Regions from separate parts of the Homo sapiens genome. Here region 1 is linked to region 2. The links come from fine-mapping of genetic effects on gene expression. Tissue or cell type: tibial nerve. Region 2 holds a variant in brackets; the other region holds the start of a gene. All regions are shown on one strand. Distances are from middle to middle.

The links.
Region 1: CDH13 starts here. The variant in region 2 is fine-mapped to the expression of CDH13 in tibial nerve (GTEx, PIP 0.98).

Annotation. Positions count from the first base shown.
Region 1 is chr16:82,622,540-82,631,209 of GRCh38, forward strand. It overlaps CDH13 (cadherin 13), which reads left to right and starts at 4,430. Exons shown (of 14, transcript NM_001257.5): 1 at 4,430-4,598. The coding sequence starts at 4,554. RefSeq lists an enhancer at 6,515-7,714.
Region 2 is chr16:83,500,766-83,509,435 of GRCh38, forward strand. The region is part of intron 7 of CDH13 (cadherin 13); the gene reads left to right. It overlaps MIR3182 (microRNA 3182), which reads left to right and starts at 7,581; the gene lies at 7,581-7,643. The variant T/G (reference allele first, on the strand shown) is at 4,377.

The sequences.
Region 1 (8,670 bases), 880 kb before region 2:
TGAGCACGCAGCAGTAAAAATACAGAAATGAGCTTACATTCCAGAGGAAGAGACAGACAACAAGCCAACAGATGTAATCACTCATTAATTATTGCTACAAAACAAATTACCTCAAAATATAAAGCAATTGTTTATTTTCAGGTCACATACCTGCTGATCAGCTGAGCTGGGCAAATTTGGCTGGGCAAGCATCTGTGGGCCCATGAGGGGCTCATATTTCCTCCTAGGACCGGCGGGATAGCCCACAAATGCTCTTTTCAAGGCATCAGTAGGAGCTTTTGCGAGAGTAAGCTAAAACACAGAGGGTCTCTTGGGACCTGAGCTTATAACTGGTACCCCATCCCTTCTGCTTCATTTCATTTGTCACAGAAGTTGCATGGCTAAACCCAAGGCCAAGGGGCAAAGGGCACAGATGCAGGTTGGAGTGAAGGATTGAGATGACAACGCAAGCAACAATGCGTAGCAGAAGGTCAAGTAACATAGGGGGCCAGGAAGAAACACGAAGCAGTGTTTGTGGCTTAAGAGTGATCAGGAATGCTACTTTTGGTCAGCATTCTGGTAGCCAGGGAGACTTGTTGTAGGACGGTGCATTGTCCTAATCTTGGGTGTTTTTAGCAGGTGTTCCCATTGTAGGGAGTGAGACATTAGCATGAAGGTATGTTGCAGTGCTGTGTGATACAGGCTTCCCTGCATGCTGTCCAAGTGGGTCTCTGTTATCCAGGTCCCCAGACACGCCTAATCACTGGGTTGTTGCATAAGGGCTCCTAGCTGGATTAATCCCGCTCTATACAAATGCCTCATCATAGCAGCACATTGAAAGCATAACAAAATTTGAATACATTATCTCTGCCGGACTATATGCCAGTCACTCCCTCCCCCCAGCACACACACACCCATGTGCTTATATGCATACACACAGGAACATGCACGCACTCACACAGCCACATCCACCCACTGTGGAATGCCTTCATCAACATCAGCCAAGGACAGGAAACAAACTCAACCCTTGGCACCCACAGGAGGCAGCTACTGGCTGTTGGATTATTCCCTCCGTGCCAAAGCTAGGCTGATGCGTCTGGAAAAGGGGTGTGAACCTCGAATGTGTCTAAAGGCAGACACAGCTTCTTGAGGAGCCCACAGATGCTACAGCAGCTGGGGCTTGGTCGGGGGATGATACGGGGTAGGCGGTGGAGTGGGGATACGTAGGGCTCAACTTTAGTATTTATTTGCCACATCAATCAATTAATCAGCCAAAAAACCCTTATTAGGGAACTGAATAAAAAGCAAAGCAAAACGAAGAATGGATTTCTTCTTCAGAAGCCTTTTATCATTGGAATGAAATAATTTTTCTTCTGTCTTTGTTGGACAAAATATGATCTCTTGTTCTTTGTTGAAGTGCACGTTCTCTGAAAGTCGAGAGGAATAGATGATAGAGGGGAAGAGAAACATCAATATTTACAACAGTCCTGGGAGTGTTATCATGTTATCATTCGCATTTTATTGATGACATACTGAGTCTTAGGGTACCAAACTGACTTGCCTCATATATGTGGAATCTGAAGATCTCAGTTCAGGTCTAATCTTTCTGACAAATCTTTTTCCACCTTAGTAGGCTTGGCATGTTTTGAACCTCGTGGGATTACAGAAGTGAGCCTCAATGCCTAGGGAGACTCCAGAAGACAACTCCTCTCATTCCTTAAAAGCCAATCTGTGGGGATTGAGGTGAGGAAGGAGTGAAGACTGGCCCTTTGGGCACACCCACCTGGAATCAGGCAAGGTTTACTGGAGCCACTCTGCCTGCCAGCAGAACAGCCCAGGAAAAAAGCCTGGGACCTTTGCAAATGCCTGAGCAGGACTTTGCAGGGGACAGAGTCAGCAGGATTTTCACCAAACGACATCCATCTTAATTGGTAGCATCAGACTCATGAGGTCTTCTATGGCCTGGGCATCACAGACTCTCATTACTGGTCGTACTGCCAATGGCCTCCTTTTATATATAGTTGATGAATTTGAGGACAAACCAGAGAATTGCCCTTGGCCAAACCAAGCTGTCTCACCCAAGATTTTTCCCCTCCTTGGGGAAATACTGGGGCAAAAAGCACGTCCAGGGAAACCAATCTGCCTGACACTGGCAATTAAATGCTCCAGGCTTGAAGGGACATGGCACTTTTGCACATGGCTCATTGGCTAGATGTACACACACTGCCCCACCCCAGCAACAAGGGGGCCAGTAAATGCAATCCCACCATGATCCCAAAAGGGGAAAAATTGGAAATATTTGGTCATCAGCACTAAGGACAAGGGAATGGGGAGACCACAGAAGGCCAGCAGAACTGTAAAACTGACAGCACCGAACTGTCCTTAGAACACAGCCTTGAAAACTCCCTCTTCTGAGGGACTGCTTCCCTTAACTGAGCTGCTGCAGATGGAAACCTAGCTAGATCCTCATCTTCTGCAGTCTAGTCCCTCACTGTGGTTTATCACCTCCCAAGCTGTCCTCTGCTCTCTTTCCCTATCTTTGTGTTGCTAAGCCATGGACTCAGTTTAGCTGGCCCTGAATTACAAGATGGCACCTTCCCTGGAGTGGAGAAAAGTCCGGATATTTCAGGATGCCTTGATTTGAAGCCTGTTTGACTCCAAAGTTCTCTGGTTTACTCCCACCTGTGGGAAACGTGAGGCTAGATCTCCACACACATGGATTCCAAAGTGTCATGATCTGTGACGTCATCTGTCGGACCGTATTGATCAGAGGCTCAGGGACAGATGACCCTATTTAGGCAAGGAAATGAGTGGGTGAAGCAGCAAGATTCACCTTTCCCAGTTTCATCTGGGGGTTGTTTTGCCAACATTGCCATCTGTTGGGCCAGTGCTGGCTACAGCAGCCAAGCTTCAGACATCACTGCATCTTTATCAATGACCTTGGGACCACAGGAGGTGACCTTCTGACCAAACAGCAGCCAATGAAGGAATCTTAAAAGGCACATCACTTTATATTTATTCAGTGGTTATGTCATCACTTAATCCTCACCACAACCTTGTGAGTTCAGTAGAATTTGTGTTTTCATTTTATCTGTGAACAAATGGAGGCAGAGAGTTTGAGTAATTTACAAGTAAGTGGCAGATCCGGGGGCTGTGCCTAGACAATGTGGCTCCAGACTCCTTGCCCCTCCCTGCCTTCTGCTGCATCTTGATTGAGTCTAGCCATCTATTTCTTTAACACACACTAATTGCTGTCTCCATGTTCCAGGCCCTGTGCCAGATGCTAGAAATACATCCCCATCCACTGGATCTTGGCATGGTCCATTGCTCAGTGTCCTGCTATGTTACGTGTTACATAATGCATTTATTCCGGTATTTAGCCCATGGAAAATAATGCTGAAAGACATTGTATGCATGTTTCTACAACAAAACTATGTAACTTATGTTTCTTTTATTGCTTTGGCTATCAGGAAGCTCTTATCCAAATCAGAGCAAATACATTAGAATTTGGGCTTGTCATTTCAGTTTGCTGAACTTTTCCTTCTGGCCCAGATTTTCTATTTTGGTTCATAAATTCTATTGCACAAATGTCCTTTATTGTAAAACACCTTAAATTCTTTCTAAGGGAAGGCTGCATGGAAATGATACAGTAAGGTCTTCCCTGCATTTTCTTAGATTCCTATTAGGGAAGGCAGACCTAGATGTCCCTCTTACCCTCAGTCCCAAAGCCCCCCATTTATAAAATCCCTTAAGCAGTGACTACTGCTGTTCTGAGTACCTGGAGGTAGTTCAGAGCTTCTGAAAGGTAACATCCATATACAAAAAGAAGTTCCTTCCGATCCAGATCCCAGCTTTGGTGCCAGATGCACATTTGAGGAGTAGGTGGCTAGTCAGACTCTCACCTGAGCAGTTAATAAAATCTATTGCCCCTTAATGGAATTTTTTCTGCAAGCTCGAATTGATCTGTCATCTTTGTGATTTGTGAGATGGCAGGGAAGCACCAAACACCATCATGACTTGGGCCACAGTGGGGGGAAAAAAGGAAAAAAGAAAAAAAAAATCCACTGCCAAGCCTTGCCAGGCGTAGAAAGGGCTGGAACTGCTGGGGCCATTTTATCTGATTTATTGGAAATAGAGTGGATCTTATTAACATTTTAATAAAGAGAATCTTTTTGCACTAGGCTGGAAGTGGCCGCCAGTCCCCCGTGCAATTCCATTCTCTGGAAAAGTGGAATCAGCTGGCATTGCCCAGCGTGATTTGTGAGGCTGAGCCCCAACAGTCCAAAGAAGCAAATGGGATGCCACCTCCGCGGGGCTCGCTCCTCGCGAGGTGCTCACCCCGTATCTGCCATGCAAAACGAGGGAGCGTTAGGAAGGAATCCGTCTTGTAAAGCCATTGGTCCTGGTCATCAGCCTCTACCCAATGCTTTCGTGATGCTGCTGCTGATCTATTTGGGAAGTTGGCTGGCTGGCGAGGCAGAGCCTCTCCTCAAAGCCTGGCTCCCACGGAAAATATGCTCAGTGCAGCCGCGTGCATGAATGAAAACGCCGCCGGGCGCTTCTAGTCGGACAAAATGCAGCCGAGAACTCCGCTCGTTCTGTGCGTTCTCCTGTCCCAGGTAGGGAAGAGGGGCTGCCGGGCGCGCTCTGCGCCCCGTTTCTGCATTCGGATCGCCCGGCACGGGCAGGGTGAGGGGGCTTTCGGGGGGTCGGGGCCTCCGGTCGCGGCGGCGAAGACAGATCGGGGCTCGGTAGGGAGGTCATTCCGAGCCCAGAGATCCTAGGCACCCCCCACACACAGGCTCCCACTCTGGCGTGCGTGTGTGTGTGTGTGTGTGTGTGTGTGTGTGTGTGTGTGTGTGTACGTTCGTTAACGGGAGGAGGAGAGAGCTCCCAGTCCTTTTTTGCTAGCAGGGGCGACATTCTCGCCCACATCAAGTGGGGTAACTTTGGTTCCCTCCTCCGGAGGCTCGGTGCATTGGAGAAAGACTCAGTTAGAGGCGACTCCAACGAGCCGCGGTTTTCCCCAGCCCAACGCCCAGCGGCCGAAGCGCTGCTCGGGTCCGGATTGCGGGATGCGGGGCTGGAGAGGCCGAGCAGGCACCACCGACTTCCCAGGGCGCCCGGGCCCCCTGGTACAGCCCGGCTGCCCGCTGGAAGGCGCCTCGGGGCAGCAGAGAGCCTCAGCCCGGCTGCTGCTGTCGCTCAAAGGCGCCGGCGCCGGCCGCACCCGCATCGGGGTCCTTTTGCTCCCAGACCCCGGGCCCGAAAGGGCCGGAGCGTGTCCCCCGCCAGGGCGCAGGCCCCAGCCCCCCGCACCCCTATTGTCCAGCCAGCTGGAGCTCCGGCCAGATCCCGGGCTGCCGCCTCTGCTGCCTTCCCTGAGCGGGAGCGGAGCGCAGAGAAAAGTTCAAGCCTTGCCCACCCGGGCTGCAGCTGCTTGTTAACCCTCAGAGCGCCACGGCGCGAGGGAAGGGCACGCCAACCAGGAGAGGGGGCGAGGGAGATGCGGTCCGCCTGCAGTCACCTCTGCACCTCAGAGATTTCGGGAAGTTTGAGTGCAGGAAAGCAGCGCTCCGAGGCCAGGCCTGGGGTGCTGGCCGCTGCGGGGGGCACGCCCTGCGCTGCTCAGGGGCCTGTGGTTTCGGAGAGCACCCCGATCCAGTCCCCCATCGCCTCTCTGGCAGGCGTTGGGACTTGGAGTGAGCTGGCAGCCTGCAAGTGGGTGGATAAGAGCCAGGGCAGGGCAGGGCCGGGCAGAGTAAGGAGGGAAAGAGACAGGGAGTGCCTCAGGGTGCTAGGAATGAGTGTTGAGTTCCTGGCCGGGGTAGAGGCTCAGGTGAGAGTTTGCGGGTGAAAGGCAGGGGAAGGGAGTTGGGTTCCCAGGTAGGGACTGTCTGGGATGGGGAGACTGGTGCAGACTTCTAAGGGAGACCACTGTTAGAGCAATGTTGGGTTTAGACTTTGGAAATGGGCTAACATCTCAGAAATGCAGTGATGGGTGATAGTACCAGGGGAGATTCAAGTGCCCGGCTGCTGAGCCCGCTCCCAAGCTCCTGACTTCTTTCTTGGATATACAGTCCCGATTAAGGACTGCCCAGTTATAGCTCCTTTTCTACCAGGCTTTTCTGGTTGATTATCTTGGGGTCCCTACAGCCTTGAGTCTTGCCATGGATCCCAAGCCTGGCTGTGAACCAGTTTTCCAGATGTCCTGTACCCTAGAGACCCCAAGGCTGTATGTGTGTACATATACCCCAATTTAGCAAGGCGGTTTGGAGCATGCCTCAGACAGAAAGGATTCAGACAGATCCTTCCTGCCATCTGCTAGTGGTACCAACCCGGGCAAGTTGTTTAACCTCTTTGAGCTTCCAAGTTCTCCATTGTAAAATAATCTGCTGCCTTCCTAGGACTGCTGAGTGGATAGGATTGCATTCAACAGGATGTCCTATGCAATGCATGCCAGTCTGGGAGCTGTCGGTGTCTGAGAGCACTTACCATTGCCTTGTCCAGGACTTCACAGTCCTCTTTCTTTCTTGGCAGGTTTCAACCTCAGTTCATATTCCAGGGCTTGCCCAAAGTTATGCCTCCTTTAAAGCAAGACAGACCACGTGACAGGGCCCCAGGATCGATTTTTATGCACTAAGGGCTCTGCGCACGGTTCTTTTTGCAAATGAACTGGTGTGTCTCCTCACCCAGGGCCAGGCTGGCACAGGTGGGTTCTGAAGGCTCACTCTATTTATTTAGATGAAGGAAGCAGAGATTTTGCTGTGAATTGAAATGATTGCCCTGAGAGGCTTATTTCTATTTTCAATTGTTATGCATATCAGAGCAAATGTCCACATTAGGATAGTAATTGATATCCTGGTAGCAATAGTACCTCACAGAGAAATCATTTTGATGCAATCCAGTTAACCAGCAAGAAGTTCACGTGCAGAACTCTGTGTGCCATAGAAAAAAGTGGGGAAAGTCTTCGAGGCCTTGAGTCGACGAGCAAAAACACAACTTTCCTGAGGCAGAGAGAAAACAGAAGGGAAAAACAATGTAATAAAACAAATTAGTCACTCGGCCCTGGTGGTGTTCAGGCAAGCCTGTATGTTTTTTTCCACCACAGTTGTAAAGCATCGGGTCTGGCTTTGGAAGCCATCAATCTCTGTAAGCTTATTGGCTTGGTTGTTGTTTTAGGCATTTTGGTAGGAGGTGAGGAATTCTAAGCAACAATGACTGGAAGCTGGCACCGTTGAACAGTCACCTCTCCTATCCCCTGGGGTGTTTTGGGAAAGTCTGTCCCAGAAGTGGCTTCTGGAATTTGCCTATGATAAGTAATGACTGTGAAACAAATCAAGAAAGAAATGAGCAAGAAATTCCATGGTAAATGTGATTCCCCTCCCTATTTGGGTAGCACTTACAACTAACCAAAAGTTCTAACAATGAGTGAGTAATCCCCCAAGAATTAGGAATTTAGGGAGGGGTTCAGGCTTGGAGGACAGTCGCTTGGGAGTGACTGAAAATGTTCCATGGAATTCTGAGATTTCGCTATAAAGTGGGGAGTTCTCTCTAGGGGTCAGAGTCTTGATTTTCAGGATTTTCAATGAGAATCAGTGTCTTATAGTGCTCCTGCAAATTTGTGTGTTATGTTTTAAGAGCAGTGTTTATTTGCAGAACTTTTTGGATGAGGAAAAGGACACAGGGTTGAAGAGGGTGCTGCCCCCTCCCCCCCTAGGGTCAATACATGACAGCCTGTAAGATTTCCAGAGCACTAGGGAAATGGAATATGTAGTGAAAGGAGTCAGTGATAGAGTTCACCTGTCTGAATATTTTTTTTTAGCAAGTCCCAAAACAGGTTTAATAAACTGCAAAGCTGAGTATGTAATCTGGAATTTGTGTAATTCCACAGTCTATACTAAAAGCCCCAACAGTCATCTTAGCTGATCGCTCCTACTCTGCCTCCCTCCCTTCTCCCCTTTTCTATCTTTAGCCCTTGGGTTTTCCGTTAAGTAAAATCTGTTTACTTCCAGAAGTATCCTCTATGTGTTATAGTGAAATTGCCCAACAAACCAACATACTCAATAACTGCATTATCTAAAAGCATCAGCACTTGGATGTGTAAACTGAGCCTCAATCTGAAGTTCAATGTTTAGGTTAAAGTGTAGCTAGGTTCTTGAAAACATCCTTATTTCCTTCCAAAAATACAATTGCTTGGGGAGTCTAGTTAATTTATATTTAGTGGAATGTAGGAAAAGGACAAACTATGGATTTAATTTACACCTGAATGACAGTCATATCATCTACGTAGCCAACAGTGTTTCTGTGTGCGCGTCTGAGTGAGTGTGTACATCTCTGCATTTTGATCTTGTAATACCTGTTGAAAAATTTCTCCAGAAGAGGGCTCCATCCACAGCATTACAAAATTCTGAATCTACAGCTCATTTTAAAGAACTTCAATGCAGCAACTCCATCAAAACAAAACTATTCTCCTTATTCCACATTAATTGCCACAATCACCCCCAAATGAGAAATCCTGCCATTTTTCACTGTATTTATTTCTGTGTCTCTCTCTTTCTTGCTTTCCTTCTTTTGCTCTCTTGCTTTCTCGCTAGCTTTCTTCTTGCTTTCTTTCTTTTCCCCTATTGTAGTTGGTTCTGTTCTAATTCATTCTTTGACTCTGTATCCCCTCTGAGTATTGGAGCAGGG
Region 2 (8,670 bases):
GACGGGGTTTCACCATGTTGGCCAGGCTGGTCTCAAACTCCTGACCTCAGGCGATCCACCCGCCTCGGCCTCCCAAAGTATTGGGATTGCAGGCATAAGCCACCACAACCGGCCTAGAGACTGGTTTCTATATGAGCCAGTTTATTTGTTGACCAAACAGAGGGAGTTGTGCCAGGAATCATGGCCTCCGTTAATGTTTTTAAGATTGCAGGGGAAGCATTCCAAATGTTTTCAAAGGTGTATTAAGGTAAGTCTTGTCAAAACATTCCCACTTGAAATAATAAGCATTCTTATTTCTTTAAGTAACAGAGACATAGCAATGGCTTTCCTGGCTAAACGTGATCATCACAGACACACTGACCAGCTGTTTATCTTTGCTTCCACAAATTCCAACAGGCAACTTAATAGACATTTTGTGGTTATATGTTTCTAAGACAGCCATGGGAAATGAATTTATTTCTACCTTTGTGAAGAACAGCTATAGAAATGACCATTGAAATTCAGTGAATGGCATTTCTGCTTATGGGCCTTAAAACTGGGAACCAAAATTAAATTCTTTTAGGTATTTTCTCTCCCGTGTCTTCTAAATTGTTGTGTGGGCTGATTTTTCTCCATGAAAGACTCTCAGAGTCCTAAATTCAGGTTTTCTGTCTCCTTGGGCTCTAGCATTCTGGAATAAGCAAGAGTCAAGAGATTCTCCATTCTTATTTCCTCTGCATGTTAGAATATCTAATAGGTGTGAGACAGTTTATGTTGTGCTCAGCATTGGACAGCCACCATGTAAACAATTACGGCGTTTTTTCATCCAGGCATTACATTAGGTCCATAACACTCACAGGAGCTCTGTAAGGCTGAAATTGCCACATCCATTCTACTAGGAGGGTTATGGAGTTCCCAAGGGCTGACCTGCCTTTCCTGAGTCACCCACTGGAGAGCCAGGGCATTGGATTTGACCTCATAGCCGCTGCTCTATCCACTCCCTTGGGCTATTAAAGAAAAGCACGGGACATATTGATGGAAAAAATCTGACAGATGTCTCAAGGACAACTTTATCTTTTATCAGACTCATTTCAGGGATTTCTGTATTCATTGCTCCTGGACTTTTCACATATTTGGGGAGCTTGATTGAGTTTCCCTCAGCTCTTCCATTAGAAAGCCCATGTGGTACAGTGGCTCAGAGCTTGGGCTTAGGAATTCACAAATGTGAATCTGTGAATCTGAGCTCTGCATCTTATTACTTGTGTGGCCTTGGGCAAGTCACCTCACCTACCTGAGCCTAGGTTTCTTTGGCTGTAAAATGGAACTCATAGCACGGCCTGTGTGGAAGACAGAATAATGGCTCCTCCCCTTCAAAGAAGTCCTCATCCTAATTCCCAGAACTTGTAAATATGTTACCTTACAGGGCAAATGGGACTTTGTAGAAGTGATTAAGTCAAATATATTGAGATTGGAAGATTATTCTGAATTATCCAGATGGGCCTGATATAATCACAGGGTCTTAATAAGGGGGAGGTGGGAATGGCTGGGTTGGAGATTTAAAGATGCTCTAGTGCTGGCTTTGAAGATGGAGCAAGGGCCCACCATGCAAGGGCTGTGGACAGAGCTTCTGGCATCTAAAACAAAAAAGGAAAAAAAAAGGCAAGGAGAGAAATTCAGAAGGATTGCAGCTCTGCCCACACCTTGATTTTAGCCCACTGAGACCCACTTTGGACTCCTGTCCTGAAGTGTAAGAGAATAAAGTCACATGGTTAAGTCACTAAGGACATGGCAGTTTGTTACAGCAGCAATAGGAAATGGATGTAACCTTTTTTATATGGTTTGTGGGCTTGAAAGAGATGACGTGTTAAATACAGTAGCTTTTGACCTTGAAAGAGACGATGTGTGAAATACATTAGTTTTGGGGGCTTGAAAGAGATGACAGGTGAAGTACATTAACTCTTGGGCATGAAATACATTAGCTTCATGGCCGTTAGCATTGGCCATGAAGAGCTCTTGACCAATAGTAGCTGGTGTTACCAATAATAAAATAATGGTGAGACTTGAGATGACACAGGAGTGTTCTAACAGAGGCACAGTCCACTTGACCAGATCTTTCTCAGGCATCTCCATCGACAGTGGGGTCTCCCTAGAAGGCTGGGTGGCTGCCATCCCACCCAACCAGCCTGCCTGAGTTGGTAAAAGTGCATGAAAGTGTTCCTCTCAGGGGGTGGCCTTCCATTGGCCCTCACAAGGGCACAGCGGAGCTCGTTGGTTATGCTTCAGTTACATAAATCCAGCCTTACAAAGGCTACACAGAGAGAGGGGCTCCTTGCCTCCTAGATCTGTACCTTGTAGGTGCTCAATACACATTGGTAAGAATGTTCACATCATCAGGTAAGCAAGGGGTATAAAGTGAGGCCTTGAATCGCTCACGTAGATTCAAGTAGTGTTGAGAAACTAAGAAGTGGTGAATTGTACCCTTTTTTCCCCTCCCAAATTAGAACTCCTAAGAAATACAGGACAACTGGAGACCAAACCGTAGGTTTCATTACCTATGAAGCTGATTAGGAAAGCCTTGAGTTTGTACCCAAATAAATTTGCTAATACTTTTACCTAAATTAGAGAGATTCGGATGGGGTGGGATAACAACACGCCACATCTACCTGGGTGGAGCCCATCTCAGGATGCCTCTGCCCAGGAGGAGGGGCAGTGAGAAGGAGGCCGGAAGGGGAAGAGAAACAGGAGAGGGAAAGGAGGAAAGGAGACATAGCTAGGGAGATGCCACTCAGCAATCAGAAACCTCCATTCCTTTTCCTGGGGTGGAGTGGAGGAAAAGGGAAGGGGCAGGGAGGCTCCTAGCCCACAAGCCACTTTTGTGCAATAGGAAAAGATGCTTGACCAGTGACGATGAGCTTTTTTCCAAATGTTTTTTGGCCACAGAAGTGTCTTGAGAAGTTTCTGTTCATATCCTTCGCCTGCTTTTTAATGGGGTTGTTTGTTTTTTTTCTTGTAAATTTGTTTAAGTTCCTTGTAAATTCTAGATATAAGACCTTTGCCAGATGGGTAGATTGCAAAAATTTTCTCCCATTCTATAGGTTGCCTGTTCATTCTGATGATAGTTTCTTTTGCTGTGCAGAAGCTCTTTAGTTTAATTAGATCCCCATAGTCAATTTTGGCTTTTGTTGCAATTGCTTTTGGTGTTTTAGTTGGGGGGTGGGGGGCAAGGGAAGGGACAGCATTAGGACAGATGCCCAATGCATGTGGGGCTTAAAACCTAAAATATGGGTTGATGGGTGCAGCAAACCACCATGGCACATGTATACCTATGTAACAAACCTGCACAGTCTGCATATGTATCCCAGAAGTTAAGGTAAAATTTAAAAAAAGGAAATAAAAGATGCCCGTTCCTCTGAATGGACATAGCCCATGCCAAGGGTAAGGCTTGGTGAGTGGAACAGGCTGGATTTTAATCCTCAGGTTGCTGCACCCTTGGTGAAGCACAGGGCACTAGAGAAGAGTGTTCACAACCTCCAGCCCCTCCACAAAGAAGCCTGATTCTGGAAAGACAGAGGTTCCAACCTCACCCTTACTTCTCTTCTGAAGATCTGCTGTGCATGAAGCATTTTGGAGGTATTTCTTCAGCTCAGAACACAGCAACTTTCCTATGAAAGAGAGCACAAAGGGTTAATGCCACCAGAAGACACTCAGCCTGTCCAGTGTCGCTACCACTGGGACGGGCAATGGGAGGCATCTGAGGCTTTGCTGACAACTTCTTCTGCTGTGAGGGTGGAAAGCAGGCCAGATCTTTATGACCTGGACTCCACGTTTTGGGATTCTAGCAAGATGGGACCCACTCCGGGTGCTGTGCCCATTCTCAGTGCCAGTGGGGCTGATATGGGGTCATGGCAGGTAGCGGGAGATAACAGCCTCATCCTCAACACTAGACATCCAGACAGAGTGGCTCAGGCCCTGTAAGCAACTGGTGTTAGGGCAGATAATGAGATTTTCTGGTGTCTGCTTGGTGACAAGAGTAGTGGCTTCAAGGAATTTTTTTAAAAAATAACATTTGTTTATAGTTGTGTTTTTTAAAGTAGAAAATATATTCATACGAGCAAGTAATTAGTGTCCTGCCAGGTAAGTCTCATGGTGACATGTCAACGTAATTATTTTTTAAAGTCTGCCTCAAATAAAGCATCAAAATTTCCTGCTTTAAATCTCCTTTCTCTGTAAAAATGGTTAAGAGGAGTGAAAAGAGAGGATGGGAGGGGTCTGAGAGCATTGATGCCTCATCATAGTCAGCCAGCTGTGGCACCACCTCTGTCTTTGCCTGTCACTCTCATACAAAGGATGTGCATAGGAAATGTGATCCTACCCATCCTCAAATTCTAGATTTGGAC[T/G]TGAATTTGGTGCTCTTATTTCCACATTAAGTTAAAATCTAGCCTCCAGATCCCCAGGCTTCCCCTCCCATTGTACCCAGAAGAAACAAGAATTGTTTCTCAGTTCTAACTGTCATAATGCCTAGCGGGCGTTAGCCTACAACGAAGGATAATTCAATCTATCCTCACCTTAGTGTACGCTGGACAACACTAGGACTCAGAAGTGCTTTGCTCTTGATCTTGAAAGGCCAGTGGAAATCCATGCAGATTCCTCCCCCAGGACCCTCCCAGCCAGCCTGATAATGAATTCATGGGAAACAGCCTACATGTGAGCACCAAAGGGAACACATTTAGTAAACTCTGCCAAAGGAGCACAGTTCTTGTAAAGCTGATGAGGTTTGTGATTAATCCTTTTTTTTTTTTTTTTTTTTTTTTTTTTGAGAAGGAGTTTTTGCTCTTGTTGCCCAGGCTGGAGTGCAATGGTGGAATCTCGGCTCGCCACAATCTCCACCTCCCAGGTTCAAGCGATTCTCCTGCCTCAGCCTCCGGAGTAGCTGGGATTACAGGCATGCGCCTCCACGCCCGGCTAATTTTTTATTTTTAGTAGAGACGGTGTTTCTCCATGTTGGTTAGGCTGGTCTTGAACTCCTGACCTCAGGTGATCCACCTGCCTTGGCCTCCCAAAATGCCTAACCCAGTTTAAAGAGATCCAGGAAGCAGATTGTGAGCTGCAGATATGATGTGATTATTAAAAGCAGCCTCCATTGCCAACATTGCAAACGCATCAGCATGTTCCTTCCTTCAACATTCCATAACGTGGTGGTGGTATTCCCACCTTACCCCGGGAGAAGCTGAGAGTCACAGGGAGTATTTACTTTCCAAGTTCACACATTCAGGGAATGGGTAGAAGTGGAATTCACACCCAGGTCAGTGTAAGACCAAAGAGGCTGTCAGAATGGTTTGCTGTTCCACTCATGGCAAACAGGATTTGAAGTTGTTCCAGTCCAAGGGAGACCATCAGGCCATGCAGGAATAAAAAGGCCAAGGGGAGGAAAGAAGATGCTGTCTTCATTAAGGCCTGAAGGAAAAGGCTGGTCAGAGTGAAGAGTATAGACAAGCTCCTCTGTATCCTCTCAAAGATTTGGAGCCACTGATCTCTCTGGGGGTTGGGGAATGGGGCAGTTCCTGGGAAAGGGACTTATTGGTGGGAATCCAGTTCTGCTATGAATGCTCCTGACTCCTGCACTCAAATCCCAACAGATGAAAGGGAGGAGAGACTGACAGATGCAGTGCCTTCCTTTATGTAACCTCCTTGATCCAAACTACAGTCTGACCCATGCTTTCTGGCTTTATATTGTACCACTACGTTCCTAACTCACCCTCGTTCCAATGGCATCAGCATTTTCTCTTCCCTCAAAGATAATGCACTTCTGACTTTTGCATATTATGGTAGCCAGCCCCCAGGAGGGCTCCCAGTGATTCTCACCTCATGGTACCCATGCTCCTGCGTGGTCCCCTCCCACATCGAATAGGAATGACTTGTGTAGCCAAATAGGACATGGCAGAAATGACTTTGTGTGAATTCTGAGCCTTGTTTATTCTTGTCCTTTCTTGCTACAGGCAAAGCCAAATGCCGTGTTGTAGGGAAGCTCAAGTAGCTTCATGGAGAAATCCACATGGCAAGGAACTGAGGCCACCTACTAATAGCCAGCATCAATTCTTTAGCCGTATGTGTGAGCCACCTTGGAAGTAGACCTTCTAGCCCCCATCAAGCTTTTAGATAACTGTAGCCTCACCAACATCCTGACTGAACTACACAGCTGAGCAGCTTCCATATCTCCAAGCCACAAACACTGTGTGCAATCATAAATGTTTTTAGTTGCTTTAAAGCACTAAGTTTGGGGTAATTTTATTCAGCATTAGATAACTAATACACATAGTCTGTTTCACCAGCTAAAATTGCTGCTCATTTCTCTGTTACCCCCCAAACCTGGTGTGAGCAGCCCCTCCTCTGTGGACTTTTTCTGGTCTTCTTTGCATGACTCAATCCCTCTTTCTTCATTTTCTCACACAGATTGTTTAGCATTCTATTAATGCCACTGTCACAAGGAAAAGCAATATTTTTATTACAGTCTCTCTCCTCTGTCGATTCTAGGCTTCTTGAGAAAGTTTGTAATGTATGCATTCTTCAAAGAGGTATTGTTATTAATAGAGGCTCAGAAGATGGCTGAATGAATGAAGAGTGTGTGTTAGAACCTGGGGAAATTTAAACCAAATACATTTAAAGCCAGTGACATTTTCAAAGCATATTTGGCTAGAAAGACTAAGTTCTTTAAAGTAGTTTAGAAGCAGTATTAATGGTACACAGTCTTTGTCCCATTCTTAACAGTACAATAATGATAATTGGTTGCTACTCTGGAAACAAATTAAAGAGCCCAGGAAACGTTTCCAAAGGTGACTGGAATGCTTAACTGAGCTAGACTGTTAATATCTAATGCTAGCCTTCCTGTGGGCATAGCACCCTGAATTGCCTGATCTCATCTAATGGCACATGCTCAGACATCCTTGGTTTTAAATAAAAATTGTCTTATCACTTAGTTTAAAAATGTTTTGCTTAGTAAAAAATTTATGAGGGCAGGTGCGGTGGCTCATGCTTGTAATCCCAGCACTCTGGAAGGCCGAGGCAGGCAGATCATGGGCTCAGGAGTTCGATGCCAGCCTGGCCAACATAGTAAAACCCGTCTCTACTAAAGATACAAAAATTAGCAGTCCGTGGTGGCGGGCGCCTGTAATTCCAGCTACTCAGGAGGCTGAAGCAGGAGAGTCGCTTGAAACCGGGAGGCAGAGGGTGCAGTGAGCCGAGATCGCGCCACTGCACTCCAGCTTGGGCAACAAGAGCAACATTCGGTCGAAAGAAAGAAAGAGAGAAAGAGAAGAAGGAAGGAAGGAAGGAAGGAAGGAAGGAAGGAAGGAAGGAAAGAAGGAAGGAAAAGGAAGGAAGGGAGGAAGGAAAGGGAAGGGGAGGGGAGGGGAGGCGAGGGGAGGGGAGGAGAGGGGAGGAAAGGGAAGGGAAGGGAATACATTTAATAAATGTGGAGTCTGCCAAATCAGGTCGGCAGTTTACTTCTCCTGTCCCCGGTTCAATAACTCACTTACTGGGGTTCTGGAGGATAGCAGTGAGAAGATGGGGTAAAAAATTAGAGAGAAGTTTTGCGTTGCCCCATGGCTGCTTCTGTAGTGTAGTCCGTGCATCCGCCCTTCGATGCTTGGGTTGGATCATAGAGCAGTGACTGTTGATGGCTCACCCAGATCCCCAGGAACCCACCACTCCCATACAGGCTTTCAACCTGTTAATCCCTGCAGCTGCCTGCCTGGACTTTCCTCTGACCATGGGAGTGTGCTCAGTCTTACTGCCCAGGGAACAGCCATCAGCCTTTGAGTGGCAAGAGTTGGTAGATTACCATCCCTTCTTGACCCTTGGAATAGGACAACTTCGAGATATGTTCTCCCGAGTCTCCCAGATGACCCCAGTGAGTTTGAACACCAGTTGTCCACAGAGATAATCTGCCCATTGCCACCTGTGTATTGACTCTTTTACATATTCTGTCTCACTTCTCTTTCTCCCTCACTTGTGCTTCTTAAGATTGTATCCTGAATAAGCTATTTGCACTCAAATAGGCAGAGAGCTAGCTGGATCCATTATTCTCTCTTGTCTTCTATATTTTAGATATCTTGTAACAGGCACAAGGTACCGTGTAGAGCTGAGGTGTAATGACCCAGCTGATCTGTTTGTACTTTCTCATGCTGCTAATGGGTACCTGGAGTTGAGAATTTATGCATAGGTGTGTACATGCCATCACAGCTCTGTGTGCATGAGTGCCTGTGGGGTCTGCATAGCATGCACACATCACAGAAACCCTCTGCCCTCCCTTCTCATTCCTCTATTTGAAGCCAAGTTTCCATAATCCCTCTACTCAACCCCCTTCTTCCCCAGCCCCCAGGGGCTTCCCATACTTAGGGTCACCCTTTCTTACCTCAGAGTTTCAAAGATGTAAGAGCTGATGCCCACCTTGATGGTATTCACAAAGTATAGCAGGGAGGCGGCCATGGAAATGACTCTTTACAGCAGGATGATATGTGGAACATGCCATGGCCAGGGAAGTAACTTTGTCTCAAGGGGATCAGGAAGATGCCCAGGTATGGGATAACTTGAGCAAAAGATTTTTGAGCACTGATCTGCAGATTTTACTCTCTGTAAAGGGCCAGATAGTAAGTATTTTAGGCTTTGTGGGCCATATGGTGGCTGCTGCAACTG